2 separate regions of the Homo sapiens genome follow, and region 1 is linked to region 2. Evidence: fine-mapped expression QTL. Tissue or cell type: whole blood. Region 2 holds a variant in brackets; the other region holds the start of a gene. All regions are shown on one strand. Distances are between the middles of the regions.

Evidence for each region. PIP is the estimated chance that this variant, and not a neighbour inherited with it, causes the effect.
Region 1: it holds the start of TRAM2-AS1, and the variant in region 2 is fine-mapped to the expression of TRAM2-AS1 in whole blood (INTERVAL, PIP 0.97).

The regions. Positions count from the first base shown.
Region 1 is chr6:52,573,416-52,581,521 of GRCh38, reverse strand. It overlaps TRAM2-AS1 (TRAM2 antisense RNA 1), which reads right to left and starts at 4,320. Exons shown (of 3, transcript NR_103446.1): 1 at 3,129-4,320; 2 at 1,913-2,147. TRAM2 (translocation associated membrane protein 2) reads left to right here and starts at 4,462. Exons shown (of 11, transcript NM_012288.4): 1 at 4,462-4,726. The coding sequence starts at 4,607. RefSeq lists silencers at 3,890-4,749, 6,607-6,656 and enhancers at 7,007-7,056, 7,658-8,106.
Region 2 is chr6:52,628,690-52,636,795 of GRCh38, reverse strand. No RefSeq gene overlaps it. Among named protein-coding and RNA genes, the nearest start is that of TMEM14A, 38 kb to the left of the region's middle. The variant CAA/A (reference allele first, on the strand shown) is at 4,236.

The DNA of each region.
Region 1 (8,106 bases), 55 kb after region 2:
CCGTAGCTCAAGTATTTTCAGTATTTCCCTCTCTCCTGGGTTTTTCCTCTCTGTCTCCAAATATGCTCCAATCTCAAAAATTAAATATAATTTAAAGGTCCTTCCTTAGATCTTCCATAGCCCTCAAAACACCATCCATTTCTCTTTTTCTCACAAAACATTTTTTTACAAACAGACGTTTTTACCCACCTCCTTTTCTCAACTTCTACCTACTGTTAAGCCCACTCTAATGTTCAATTAAGTGGTCTCTAAAAGCCACGATGGCTGAATCTGGGAGTTTCATCTCATTCTTGTTCTGCCTGATTCAACCTGTCCTTAACGAAATTCTTATGTCGTGGCTTCCTCTACGCCACGCTTTCCTTTTCCTCATCTTCCCCCATTCCGAGTGTCGGGGTTCACTAGGATTCTGCTGACCTCAGACTTTTTCTCATTCTCTCAGAACACTTATATAACCTGATGACCTCAACAGTCCTACTGAAGATGAACTGAAAATACTTTAGTTGTGATTTTCCCTCCCCAAGTCCAATCCAACAGTTTCCAACTGAGCTGTCAAAGTGTTCCATGGCTCCTCAACCTCAGCTTGTTCAAAGCAGAGGCCATCTTCTTCTCCTCCCTTAAACATGCTCTTTATCTGTTATTCCAAATAAATTTTTTAATGGTCCCACCATCATTTATGTTATCCCAGATGCAAGTTCTGACTCATTCAACTCCCTTTTATTCTTACTGCTACTGTTCTTTGAGGAGTGCTAGCCAGACGCAGTGGATCATGCCTATAATCCTAGTACTTTGGGAGGTAGAGGCAGGAGGATCACTTGAGCCTAGGAGTTCGAGACCAGTCTGGGCAACAGAGGGAGACCCTGTCTCTACAAAAAATAGAAATAAATTAGCCAGGCATGGTGGTGTGTGCTTGTAGTCGCAGCTACTCGGAAGCTGAGGCAAGAAGATCACTTAAGCCCAGGAGGTTGGGGCTGCAGTGAGCTGTGATTGCACCATTGCATTCCAGCCTGGGTGACAGAGACCCTGTCTCAAAAAGAAGAGAGAAGTGTCCATTTCTTTACTGGACTGTTATAATAGTTTCCAAAGTGGTCTTCCTGTTTAAATCAGGATGGTCTTCCATACTCCTGATAGTTCTCCTCTAAAGACAGATCTGGTCATGCTTAAAAGCTTTCCATTTCTTGCCAGGCACAGTGGCTCACGCCTGTAATCCCAGAACTTTGGGAGGCTGAGGTGGGTGGATCACCTGAAGTTGGGAGTTCAAGACAAGCCTGACCAACATGGAGAAACCCTGTCTCTACTAAAAATACAAAATTAGTTGGGCATGGTGGCACATGCCTGTAATCCCAGCTACTTGGGAGACTGAGGCAGGAGAATCTCTTGAACCCGGGAGGTGGAGGTTGCAGTGAGCTGAGATGGTGCCATTGCACTCCAGCCTGGGCAACAAGAGGGAAACTCCATCTCAAAAACAAATAAACAAAAAACACCAACTTTCCATTCCTTCCCATTGTTTGCAGAATAAAGTCACAATTCTTTATCACAGCATACAAAACCTGCCACAATCCAGTTCTATCTTAACTCTCCAAATTCATCTATCACTCCTTTTCTGCATTCTCTGTCAGTACCATTTGTCAGGTAAAGGCCCAGCCCAAATGACCTCCTCCCTTACACCCCAGAGAGAATTAGGTTACCTTTTCCTTGTACTCAGAGTGTGCATATTTCAGGTTGTTCTTAGAGTCACCATCATCACACTGAATTGTAATGATGTCTCAGTCAATTCTAAAAGATTGTAAGCTTTAGCAGTGTGTATTAGCTATCTCTTGCTGTATAACAAATTACAATAAAATTTAGTGGTTTAAAACAGCAAATATTTATTCTCTCCCAGGTGCAGTGGGTCAGGAATTCAGGAGTGGCTTACCTGGCTAGTTCTGGCTCAGGGTCTCTCATGAGGTTGTAGTCAAGAGATTAGCAGGGGCTGATGTCATCTGAAGGCTTAACTGGGGCTGGAAAATCTGCTTCCAAGGTGGCACACTCATGTCTGGCAAGTCAGTGATGGTTGTTCGCAGGAGGTCTCAGCCATATGGAGGATATGCCTCCACAGGACTATGAGTATCCTCACAAAGTGGCAGCTGGTTTCCTCCAGAGGGAGTGACCTGAGAGAAAGAAAGCAGAAACCCTCAAATGCCTCTTCTGGCCTAGTCTTGGAAGTCACATACCATCACTTATGCTACCTTCTATTTATTAGGAGTGAGCCACTAAGTCCAGCCCACACTCAAGGTGGGGGAACGAATTGCCTCTTTTTGAAGGAAGGAATGTTGAAAAACTGGAGGACATATACCCATATGCCACGTAATGATATTCAGGTCAAACAACATATAAAACAGTTGTTTCATAAGATCTTAATGGAGCTGAAAATTTCCTATCACATAGTGATGTCGTAGCCACTGTAACATTGTAGCGCAATGCATTAACCACGTGTTTCTGGTGATGCTGGTGTAAACAAACCTACTGTGCTGCCCCATAATATAGTTTAGTATAAATGTGTAGCAAAAGGCTGGGTGCAGTGGCCTGTAATCTCAGCACTTTGGGAGGCCAAGACGGGTGGATCACTGAAGATCAGGAGTTCAACACTAGCCTGGCCAACATGGTGAAACCCTGTCTCTACTAAAAATACAAAAATTAGCAGGGGGTGGAGGGCACCTGTAATCTCAGCTACTCAGGAGGCTGAGGCAGGAGAATTGCTTGAACCTGGAAGGAGGAGGTTCCAGTGAGCCGAGATGGCGTCACTGCACTCCAGCTTGGGCAACAGAGAATCCGTCTCAAAAAATGGCGGATCACTTGCGGTCAGGAGTTCGAGACCAGCCTGGTCAACATGGTGAAACCCCCACCTCTACTAAAAAATACGAAAATTAGCCAGGTGTGGTGGCACATACCTGTAGTTCCAGCTACAGGCTGAAGCATGAGAATTGCTTGAAGCCAGGAGGCAGAGGTTGCAGTGAGTCCAGATCTCGCCACTGCACTCCTGCCTGGGCAACAGAGTTAAGACTCTGTCTCAAAATAATAATAATAGCAGTGGGGGTAACTTAAATTCAACCATCTAAACCTATAAAGAAACCAATTGTATAAAGTTCAACCTCATAGGTGTGGCCGCACGTTGCAAATTTGAACACATCTTCACAGGTGGAAAGTCGAGGTGCTTCAGAGTTCTTGATCTTTCTGTTCCTCACAAGACGAAGGTTCAACTTTGAGAAAGGTCAGCCTTGAAGTTAAATGAGGTTTAGTCCAATCTAGGCATTACTTTGTCATTTCCTTGAGAGTCAGATAAGGGAATTACAGACCCAAGACTGTATTTTAAGTAAGGTGGAGTGCAGATTGAGGAAGTAAAATTTCTCTAGGAACTCCATCCTGTCTCAATTACATTCCACCGCGTGCCACTTTTAAAAAACCATATTTATTTAGAAGTGAAATAACTGTGGACCTAATAAAAAATGGAATAGGAATTAGTTTTTTTTGTTCATTACGTATTTCTGCACATCTAGAAAGTAACTGACTGCTTCATTACTGGTAGGATTAAATCCAATATTTGCGAATATAATTTATTAAGAACACCTTTTGTCCTTCCAGGAGTACTTTTAAGACTTAATATTAAATAGAAACTTTCAGTGAGAAAGTTCCTTCCTTTTTTGCTTCTTCTGTGTTTATTCTTCCACTTCTTCTGATTAATATGTAAGGTAGACTTTCGGTGAAATGTGTGTAGCTAATTAATGGTGGCATGAGGGTCCCAAAAATTACTGGGCAAAACTGCAATCATCCACCCTCTCCCCGCATTGGAGCGAAAGCTCCCCTAGGGCAGGGTCTTTCGGTTTGTTGATCTACCTGAACTGTGCCTAGCCCACTGCAAGTTCTCGATAAATACTTGAGTAATCTCCATTCACTGATCGTCCGTGCAGGGCGCTGTGGCCAGCCAGAAGGCCGGTTCGCGGCTTCCCTGCTTCCGCCGCACCCGCGCCGCCCTCAGCCCCCGGGGCCACAGCCCGCAACCCCGGGAGCATCCGGCTGCCCGGCCACCCCCGGGGCGCTCGCTGCCTCCGGGGCCTGCCCTTCCCGCGGAGGAAGGAGCGGAGCGAGGAGTGGGAAAGCTGGGCCCACTTCCTGTCCGGGCAGGCCTGGGCGCCCGCCTCCTCCGCGGCCTGCTTTCTCCACCGCGAGCGGCTGAGCCTCGGGCCCCGAGAATGCGGCCGGGCGCGGCGCTGGCGCGGGACGAGGAGGAGCCGAGCCCCGCTCGCCGCCCCCGTACGCCTCCGCCCCGGTAGCCCGCGCGTGCCCAGCGGCTAGAGGGTTAAGCCCGCGGGGGGCGGGGCCAGGCGCGCCGAGTGCGGGCCGCGGGCTGGGCGGGGGCTGGGCGGGGGCTGCGGCCGGGGGCGGTTACGGGCGGCCGGGGGCGGGCGGAGGAAGGGGGCGGGCCCCGAAGTTGTTCCGCGCTGGGCGGGCGAGCGGCTGTGGGAGAGCGGGCGGCGGGCCGGCGGGCGGACCGGGCCGGTGCTGGAGAAGTTTGCGCTGCGGTTCGTGAGCGCAGGGTGCGGGCCCCGCCGGCCGCTGCGCGCCCGCTGCCATGGCTTTCCGCAGGAGGACGAAAAGTTACCCGCTCTTCAGCCAGGAGTTCGTCATCCACAACCATGCGGACATCGGCTTCTGCCTGGTGCTCTGCGTCCTCATCGGGCTTATGTTCGAGGTGAGAGCCTGGGGAGGAGGGAGCTGGAGGGACAGTGCCCCCTGTCGTGCACCGCCCGGCACACCCCTGCAGGTCAGCGGGCCCTCCTCTGATCGGAGGCTCCTGGCTGCCGTGTACGTTATCTGCACCCCGGCTTTGTGCACTGTACCCCTCCGGCCTGTACCCCGGCCAGCCCAGACAGCACCCCCAGCTCCGCGCCGTGCCAGCCATGCCATGCTCTGCCGCCCCCTTGGGCACTCATCGTATCCTGCAGCTCTGTCTGCAGCCCTGAAACCCCAGCCTGGCCTCGAACCAACCGCCGCGCTGCCACCATGGCTTGACGCGTGGGGTTCCCTTTCTGGCGTCCAGGAGCCAAGCCCAGAGACTCCCAGACCCGCAGTCATTGCACAACCCCCTCTTGCCCCAAGGGGTGGCCACTAGCTCTTCTGGGCTTTTCCAGTGGGAGAGACCCAGAACCTTTTCCACTTCCTATGTGATTTTCTGGGTGTTTTGCATCTCAGCTCTGGAACGTGCTCGGATGTTCACGTGTGGCCCTGGCCCCATCCCAGCAGTGGCCTTCTGCTCTCGTCTCGCTCCCACTTTTTTGCTGTGCTCTAGAAGGCCAATTTTTGGATATCCTTTACCACTCCGTGAACTGTCCCTTTAGATCCATCTGCGGCGACCCAGAGCTTCACCCCCTTTACAGAGACAAGAAGAGAGACAGGGATACCCTCCACTTTTTGGGGAAAGTTGATTCTCTTATAGTGTAGGAGTGGGGGGCAGAGGATGGGGATCCCACCCCCAACAGCAATGTCCTGGTGTCGGCCTCCCAGGCAGGGAGTTGTAGAAAGCCAGCAAGGGGTCAGAATTCACAAGACTGATGGGAAGGATTCCCTACTCTTGCAGAGCAAGAAAAATGTGATATTCAAAAGTGGGAAGAACTGGAGGAAGCTTGGCATGGGTTTGTTGCGGTATATCTTGTCTCAGAAGTGAGATATGTGAGCGACATTCCCCTCACTCTCACCGTGGTCTCCTCTGGTTCCTGAGACTCCTTGTCCTCCCTTCTGCGTCAGCTTGCTTATTGCATTCTCACGGTTGGGTTAGGAAGCTGTGATCATTTACAAACTTCCTTGGAGATGGAGGATGGCTTGCCTGGCTAAATTTCCTTCCCTGTCCCTCTGTCTCGGGTTCCCTGTATCTCTACGAATGACAAGGGCCCTAATTGGCTGGCGAAGCTGCCCTCAAGCTGGGAACGTTCTTGTGGTGGCCAAGTCAGGGTTGGATGAATGAATGTGTCCGTGGCTGAGCTTTAGGGTCTGTAGGAAATAAACGGTGGTGCTAGGACTGGGGTCTCCACTCCACTTTTTGATAGTGCTCCTTTAGTTCAGTCCCTCTCTCCTTCCTCTCCCTCTCACAGCTCTCTCTAGTGGTATATTGGGTCGGGCTTGCTCCACCTTGTTCTGGGTTCTCCCCTGGAAGTGTGTGGTGTCACACAGAGTCATATCCGTGTGTCTCAGTCCCTGTTCTGTGACTAGTCTGACTGAAAACTGACTGCAGCCTCAGTTTCCCCATCATTAAAGACGTTCATAAAACTGGTCTTCGTCACAGGGTGGTTGTAAGGTTTAACTGAGATCATATCAGCAACAAAAGCCATAACATCTCCTACCAACATGAAAAAGTCTCTTGCGCCTGGAGCCCTGTGATTATTTATCATAATAATAGCTTAACAAAATAACAGAATTTCCTTTGCCCAGCGCATTCTCTGCTGTCTGTTTGCTGTCCTCCATTCTAAGAGGCCTCCAAGTGCGTGTCCCCAGCCTTGGAGGGTGTGGCTGGAAAGATACACGTGACAGCTGTAAACCTCAAAGCCACAGGCTGCAGCGACGAAGTTTCTCGCATAGCCTGTGGCTCTCTCCGTCATATTTCTAGCATTTGTTAGGGTTTGTGGCCCTCCCTGTTTTATCTTTGCTCAGAAAGGGCTGCCAGCATTTGAGTTTGGTACCTACCTCCTTCCCTGGGTCTCTAGTCTTATGGAAAGTCCTGTGCATTAAACCTGCCACTCTAAAAGTTGAAAGGTGTTAAGAGCTGTTACTTCCAGTATCTGGTGAAAGAGAAAGGCCCAAGACGAGAAAAACAACAAACAAAACTACTCTTCCTCCCCCTTAGGCTTGTATTGGGGAGTGTAGCAAGGCCCCTGGTTGAAATGCCTACAGGCCCCCTTTTCCTGCCAAGCCCATCACTTCTTCCCATAGCACCTTGAACCTACAGGACCTACAGGGCAGGTGTCTCCTTCTTTTGGAGGTACTTTGTGAGATCATCAGTCTGTGCTTCTCTGGGAGAAAGAGGGCTTTGCCCTAAGCCTCCAGTAAGAAGGTCTTGTGTTCTTCTGTGCTGGGCACATGGTGGGGGCCTCACTGTCTTTACCCACCGACTAACTAACTCTCCACAGAGATAAGTATTCCTGGGGGTGGGGAGGGGGAGTTTGGAACTGCTGCCTCTATCAAATGAGAGCAGAAGCGTCCTGGATACTGTAGGTACCACAGAGAAACAAATGTGGGCATCTTCACACTCAGAGTAAAGCCTGGGGAGACGCCTCATAACCAAGCACAGGACTGGCTGGATATCACTTAGGATCTTCTGGGTTTCTCTCTGGAAGTGTGTGGTGTGCATGTGTGGGTATGTAGGGATGCATATGGTGCGATGGTAGGTGCAACTGGGGACTCACCACCCTTTTCCTAGAAGTGACGGCAGGAAGAGGTGCAAGGGGAATGGGAGAAAGGGGTGAGAGGACATAGGCTTTTGGGGTTCTGACTTGGCCCTGGCTAGGATTCCTTCATTCGGAAGCTGAGCCAGGAAAACTCAATTATAATTCTTCCCACAAAGAGCGACTCTCTTGGCCATTCCTCCTTCTGGGGACCTCTGTCGTGCCTCTGCCAATGGGCTGGGTCCCTCTCCCCCATCAGCCCACGCGCCAGGCAGCCACAGCCCTTGTGTCTGCATTGCATCCCTGCGTTGCTCTTTCCCCCACTCACTGGTCACCTCTTCTGCATTCAGGGGGCTTCTGTTTCCCCGTTAGGGACCCCAGGGCTTTAGTTCTCTGTCCCCAGGGAGATGATGACTCTAAATTCTTTCCCTTGGGATAATTTCCTTTTGGGAACACATATGAAAGGCTGTCTCTCCCCTCACCACTCACCCCTATTGCTACCCCAATTTTGGTTTAGTGTTGAGCCATCCTGTTTCGAAGGCAGGGGGCAGCTTTTCCCCCCTGAACCCAGGTTTTCTCCCAGTCCTACAGGCTGCTTGGAATAGAGAAGCTGCTCTGTGCAGCCACAGCACTTGGCTAAAAAATGTCAGGAATGTGGAACTTTATTTTCCCCCTCCTTCCTTTCCACCGTTAAGTC
Region 2 (8,106 bases):
CTTAAAAATCATATAATCTCAACACCCAGCCATAACCTTCATTAACGTCTTGGACTTTTTCTGTGTATTTACTTATTTATGCCAATATATTTATTACAAAAAAGGGTTCATTTTGTAACCTTTTTCATTTAACAATTCAATTGGTCATGAACATCTTTCCCTATCACTAAATATTCTTCTGTGCCATCATTTTTAAAAACATGAGTGTTCATTGTAGCTTTATTCACAATTACCCAAACTGGAAACTACCCAAATGCCTTTCACTTGGTGAGTGGATAAACAAAATGTACTGTCTAGCTGTACAATGGAATGCTACTTAGCAATGAAAAGGAGACAAACTACTGATAAATGCAACATGCATGCAAAACCATTCTGACGAGTGAAAGAAGCCAGACATAAAAATGTAAATACGAACTATAGTAAGAATGCAAATACAGTCACAAAAACTTGGGGTTGAGGGTGGAGGGACGGATGGACTGATGACAGGCAAGATAATACTTTTGAGGGTGATGAAAATACTCATATATTGGTTGTAGCTGTAGTTTCACTTGTATTTGCATGCCTTAGAACTCATGAAATTGTATATTTTGTTGTGTTTGGCGTTTTACATTTTTAAAAATGTATTACTAATATTACTTTTGATTGACAAATCATAATTGTATACACTTGCAGAGTACATAATTGTATACACTTACAGAGTACAATGTGATGTTTTGATGTGTGTATGCAATGTGGAATGATTAAATAAAGACAATTAGGATATCCCTCACTGGCTGTGCACAGTGGCTCACGCCTGTAATCCCAACACTTTGGGAGGCCGAGGTGGGCAGATCACCTGAGGTCAGGAGTTCAAGACCAGCCTGGCCAACATGGCAAAACTCCATCTCTACTAAAAAACACAAAAATTAGCCGGTTGTGGTGGCGGGTGCCTGTAATCTCAGCTACTTGGGAGGCTGAAGCAGGGAGAATTGCATGAACCCGGGAGGCAGAGGTTGCAGTGAGCCCAGATCATGCCACTGTACTCCAGCCTGGGCAACAGAGCAAGACTCCGTCTCAAAAAAAAAAAAAGTATCATATATATATTTATATATAGATCCCTCACCTTGCTTACCTATCATTTTTTATGATAAGACATTTGAACAAATTATACATTTTAAGGGGCTGAATAATGCAGGCAAATTATAGCTCAATAAAAGTCATTTAAACAAAAAGCATCATTGAGGAGATGCAGTATAGGATATAGACTGGGCACTAAAGGAAGTGGGGCAAGCATGGCTGATGCAATTAAAGACAAAACAAGAATCAAGTAGTCAGAAGCATGAAAGGATGGAAAGTTGAGATAAGAGAGTACGTAGAGTTTAGATCTTAGCAAAAAGAGTTTTAAGTTGAATTAGAGCTCTCAGTTAAATCTAGTTAAAGTTATTTAGGCTAAAATGGTGATTCATCAACTCATAGCAGGTTTTTTTTAAAAAGTTGAACAACTGAAATCAGAGTGGAGTGAAGCCAGGACTTTTTTTCCAGCTCTCTGATTTCTAACACCACCTTAAGCGGGGAAGCAGGAAGGAAGGATGCGTAGGGTGCCTCATTATAACCTCACAAGGGTACGGTCCCCAGTTGGTCTTAGCAGGCAGGGACGGGGGTGAGATCACAGATTTTTCTGTGGTGTTTAGCTGGAGTAGAGTCATTATTGTCTAATAGTTTTCTGTCTCCCTAAGCTGTCCCTTTCTGATCCTTTGGCAAGAGTGAGCAGGCTTTTTCTAGGTGATTGTGTGAGTGTGTGTGTGTGTGTGTGTGTGTTTCCATTGATATTTCCAGGTTGCTGGCTTCTCAAGCAACTAGTCTGGGATATATGTATATGAAGCAAAAACAAAGCCCAGGGAGCTCACCCACTTGTTTCTGTGATCCCGAGGTCAACTGCTGGTCTGCCTTCTTTCCACCTTTCAGAGTCTTCTTTTCTTTGTTTTATATAAAATGTACAGGGTTTTTTTAGCTGTCCTTGGCAGAAAGTATAAGAGAAAAGTACGTCTACTCAATTTTTCTGGAAGCAGAAATTTCCTTGATGGCTTTTTAAAAATTAGATTGTTTGTCTTTTTCATTATTGAGTCACAGGAGCTATTTTTTATTCTGGATACAAGTCCTTTGTCAAATATATATGCTGTGAATATTTTTCCCATCTGCAGCTTGTTTATTCAATTTTTAACAGTGTCTTTTGATGAACAGAAGTTTTAAATGTTGATGAAAGTTCATTTCTTCAATTTGTTTCTTGTACAATTAGTGCTTTGTGTGTGCTGAAAAAGAAATATTTGCCTATCTGTAAGTTGTAAAAATAACCTCCTGTGTTTTTTTTCTAGAAGCTTTATGGTTCTAGCTTTCGTGTTTAGCAATATGATTCATCTCAAATCAATTTTTGTGTTTAGCGTGAGGTATGAATTTCAAGTGTTTTTTTCTGCATAGATAGCTTGTTGTTCCAACACCGTTTGATGAAAGTGTTTCCTTTCCCCTTTTAGTTTCTTTGCTATCTTGGTCAAAAATCAATATATATGGGACTATTCTTATATTGTATTCTTATCCAGTGATCTATTTGGTTGTCTTTATGTCAATACCACATTGTCTTGATTACCATGGCATTATAGCAATTTTGAAATTAATGATAGTATACATCCTCCAACTTTGGTTTTTTGCTTTTGATTTTGTTTTTTTTTTTTGTTTTTTTTTTTTTTTTGGTGCTTTTTAAGAATTGCTTTACCTCTTTTAAGGCCTTCAAATTTCTAGAAAAATGTTATAGTCCATTTGCCAGTTTCTACAGAAAAGGCTTCTGTGATTCTGATCGGGCTTGTGTTGAATCTACAGGCCAATTTTGGGAGAATTGACATCTTAACGATAAGTGATAGTGTCTTTCCATTTGTTTTTCTTCTTTGATTGTTAGCAATATTTTATAATTTTTCAAGGTGTATGTCTTACACAAATTTTATTAAGTGCATTCCTAAATATTTTGAGTTTTTGGTGTTATTCTAAATGGTATTAAGTTTCAGTCTTCAAATGTTCATTTGCTAACATATAGAAATACAACTGAACTTTATATATTAACTTTATATCCTGCAATCTTCCTAAATTTACTAATTAGCTCCAGTAGCTTATGTTAAGTTATTTAGAATTTTCTGTGTAATCATATCATCTGCAAATAAAGACAGTTTTACTCTTTCTTTTATGGTTTTGTGCCTCTTCTTTATTTTTGTCTTTTTGTGCTGTTGAAGACATCTAATAGAGGTGTCTAAGACCTCTAATAGAAGTGGTGAAAGTAGAAATACTGGCCCTGATCAAGGCCAGTACTTAGGGGGAAAATGTTTTAATCTGTCACCATTAATAGGTTGTCAGCTATAAAGTTTTCATTGGTGTCTTTTATCACAGGGGTCCAACCCCTGGGCCGTGGACCAGTATTGGTCCATGGCCTGTTAGGAACCGGGCCACACAGCAGGCAGTGAGCGGCAGGCAAGCAAGGATTACCAGCTGAACTCCACCTCCTGTCAGATCAGCGGTGGCATTAGATTCTCATAGGACTGTGAACCCTTTTGTGAACTGCGCATGAGAGGGATCTAGGTTGCATGCTCTTTATGAGAATCTACTAATGCCCTGATGAAACCACCACTCCCCACCCCCCACCCCGCCCACCTCACATGTCCGTGGAAAGACTGTTTTCCATGAAACCAGTTCCTGGTGCCAAAAAGGTTGGGACCACTGCTTTATCAGGTTGAGGAAGTTTTCTTCTGTGTTTGTTGACAGGTTTTATCATGAATGGTTGTTGAATTTTGTCAAATGCTTTTCTACATCTATTGAGATGATCATATGCTTTTTCTTCTTTATTCTATTAAATGGCATCAGTTTATATTCAAACATTAAACTAACATTGCATTCCTAGTATAACCTCCATTTGATCATGATGCATTATTCTTTTTCTATGTCATTGGGTTCAATTTGCTAAAATTTTAAGGACTTTTGCGTCTATGTTCATGACGATATTAGTCAGTTTTCTGTAATGTCTTTTTCTGGTTTTGATATCAGAATAGTTTTGGACTCATAAAATGAGTTGTTGGCTGGATGCAACAGCTCGTCCCTATAATCTCAACACTTTGGGAGGCTGAGACAGGAGGATCACTTAAGGCCACGAGTTTAAGACCAGTTTGGGCAACATAGTGAGACCCTATCTCTACACACACACACACACACACACACACACA[CAA/A]ATTAGCCAGGTGTAGTGGCGCCTGCCTGTAGTCCTAGCTACTTGCTAGGATTGCTATTTGGAAGATTGCTTTAGCCCAGGAATTGGAGGTTACAGTGAGCTATGATTGTGCCACTGCACTCCAGGCTGTGTGATCAAGTGAGACTCTGTCTCAATTTTTTTTTAAGCTTTTAAGTGTTTCTAAAATGAATGTTGTAGAATTATTATTTTTTCCTTAAATGTTTGAGATAATTTATCAGTGAAGCCATTTTGTATGTATAGATTACCTATTTCCCTTCTTTAAGGAATCACAGTCCTCCCTGAATGCCGTCCAGTGTCTTATCATAGTTATTTTATATATTGTGTGTGGTTTTGTGGTTGCTGAGAGTGGAGGGATGTCTGGTACTAGTTACTCCATCATGACTAGGCCAGAAGTCTCTAGTAAAATGTTTGTTTAAGTTGATATTATTATTAGGGTAATTTTAGATTCAACAGATTCAATATTATCCCAATATTGAAACTACCTCAATAGTTTATACTAATTGCATTTCTATTGAATCCACCCCCAAATTAAATATTCATATAACTATACAATTCAGTATTAGCAAAGACTAGTACAATGAACAATAGTCTTATACCTACTACCTAGATTCAAGTATTAATAAATAACATTACTTTTACTTCAATTTTAATATACTTTTTTATATGGAATAAAAAGTAGTAAAGTTACAGATAGAGTTATTTTATGTAACTCTGACATGCCCCAGGAGTATGTTTTGCATCTCATTCACTATGCTTATTAACAACAGATTAAACATTTGAAACCCATTATTTAGAGACTTACATGTTTCAGAAAGATTATCATTTAAATATACAAAACTTTTCTAACAAAAAACATATGTGTGTATGATTCCGGCATTTTATCAGAAAAAAAGGTGTTTCCCAGTAGGCGTGCACTAGAACTTTGCAATTATGTTTGTATCTTCTGCATGGCTTTGTCCCTGCTGCTTCTCGTCATAGGATTAGACCCTGTAGAAAACAATCACTTTCCAAAATGATATATAATATCCAGGTTAGGGGGAATTATTAGACTCAAGTCTCTCTGCATAAGGAACCATGCTGGAAACCTAATATTTTGCTTATCAGGCCTCCTCTGAGCCTAAATCTGCTTTCTCAAACAATGAAATAGATTGCTTCAACTTCCTTTTTGGAATTAAGTGGGAATATTAAACAAATGATAAACTAAAATTTAAAACCACTGGACAGTTGTAGTTCTTGCCTTCACTTAAGTGAAAGAGTTTAGGCTCTACTACTTAAAGTACTCCCACCTCACCATTTGGACCACTTACGGTCTGAAGGCTGCATCCTACTCCTGGGTCCGAAGAGCTAGGGGTGACAGCTAGGGTCTACCATGCTATACCAGTGGGAAATTTGAAGCAGGAGTAAATTTTAAAAGAAGGAACTTACATATTGTTATATTGACACTGTCATTAAGGATAATGTGACATTAATGTTACATCCTTTGAAAAACCTTACCATATGGAGAATATGAGGGAATACGGAGAATGAGGGAACACGCCAACTGAATAGCTAGCTCTAGGGAAAACTTATTTGTAAAAAGTACATTAGGATATAATGTAACAACATATTCCTCTGTTAACGGTACTGGTGAATTCTGGCATTTAGCTAGGATTGCTTCAGTCCTTTTCTGGCTGTCTGTCCCCAGTCAAAATTAACTACTAGTGCAATAGGAGTCAAAAATCATGTTAATCTCTGCCAACGAATACACAATCAAAACAGGTTGATGGTTTATTGCAAGCCCGTGGTGTTTCTAAATCACCAGGAAGCGATAAAAAATTTAAATGCCCAACCCTCATTCCTAGACATCTGAATTTGATTAATCTGAGTGGAGACTAGGCATCAATATTTTTTCATAGAATTTTTTTTAATTTCATAGAATCCTGTTATGTTTTCTTTTTCACAGTTTTATAGTTTTACCACTTAAATTTATGTCTTTGGTGTATTTTGGGATAATTTTTATATATGGTATGAGGTCGGGGTCCAACTTTATTCTTTTGCATGTGGATTCTCTAACTGCTCCAATACTATTTGCTAAAAAGGCTATTCTTTCCCTGTTGAATTGTCTAAGGAGCCTTGTCAAAAATCAGTTGGCCACATAGACACATGGGCTTATTTCTGGACTGTTGATTCTATTCCATTGATCTATCTCTATCCTTATGCCAGTACCACACAGTCTAGAGTAGTGTAGCTTTGTACTAAGCTCCAAATTGAGAAGTGTGAGACTTACAACTTTGCTTTTTTTTTGAAAGGAGTCTCACCCTGTCACCCAGGCTGGTGTGATCTCGGCTCACTGCAACCTCCAACTCCCAGGTTCAAGTGATTCTCCTGCCTCAGCCTCCTAAGTAGCCGGGATTACAGGCACAGGCCACCATGCCTTGCTAATTTTTGTATTTTGAGTAGAGAAGGGATTTCACCATGTTGGCCATGCCGGTCTTGAACTCCTGACCTCTGGTGATCCACCCGCCACGGTCTCCCAAAGTGCTGGGATTACAGGCATGAGACACCGCGCCCTACCTGTTGTTCTTTTTCAAGATTATTTTGATTATTCTGGGTCCCTGTATTTCCCTATGAATTTTAGGATCACGTCAATTTCTACCGAAAAAAAAAAAAGCCAGCCTGGATTTGTACAGAGTTGTGCTGAATCTGTATATCAGTTTGGAGAGTATTGCAATTTTAACAATATTAAGCCTTCCAATTCATTAACATGACATGTTTCCATTTATTTAGGCCTTCTTTATTTTCTCTCAGTGACATTTTATAGTTTTCAGTGTATAAGTCTTGCAGCATCAATTTTTTTTTCAAGCTTTTCAGGCGATTACCATATGCAGCCATTGTTGAGGACCATTGCTTAAGTTCCCAAAGATGAGGAGCATTTCTCATTGTCCCCAAAATCACAAATCTTAGGTAATCTGTCCATATGTGGTCCTGCTAAGGACAGGGAAATAGGGTTTATCTTGACCAGGAAGACCTACTTCCGAGAGATGTCCATTTCATAACATTTCATAAAAAGAACTCTGGTACTAATATTTAATTACACCCTACAGATAATCCTAGAGTTGCAAAATCTTGAGAGGCCTAAGAATTTATTTATGCTGCTCCAGAGAGGTGAGAGTCCATCTTATTTTAATGTCTGCTAAGAGCAAATGTTCTTTGAACAATCTCCATCAGTAACCCATTCCCATGTTAACTAACTCTCCTCTGAAAACATCTTCACCCACCTTCCCCAACCCACTACCTCTGCTTTCCTATTTATAATGAGATTTTTAACCCCCTGGGTTCTTCATTCCATCTGTACCAAATTTATGATCTGTCTAAATTCCCATTATTATAACTTCAGGCCATTTCTCAGTAGATCTGAGGAACATCTGTTCACCATTTTGAGTACAAAGACTAGAAAGCTCCTGTTATTTGTTTCGTTGTTGTTTGGTTGGTGGGTTTGATTTGGTTTAGATTGATTTTTTTCCTCTGGTTCTTGATTTTTGCCTTTCTGACACATACTATTTTCTAGGTTTGGCAAAACCACTATGAGATCTAAATGGAATGAAATGACCTGTCACCTTAATACCATGTTTTATGATCCCATTAATGGCAAAGGTAGACCATGAGTAGCTGGAGGTGTTGACTTAGGATGCTATTCTGACCAACTGCCAGTCTGTCTTTGAATAAGCTTTGAATAACATCAACACATTGATCCATCTGTGGCCATGGTCTGTCCCCGATTCCACAGTTCTCCCTTTCCTATTTTTTTTGTTTTGTTTTTGACAGAGTCTTGCTCCGTCACCCAGGCTGGAGTACGGTGGTGTGATCTC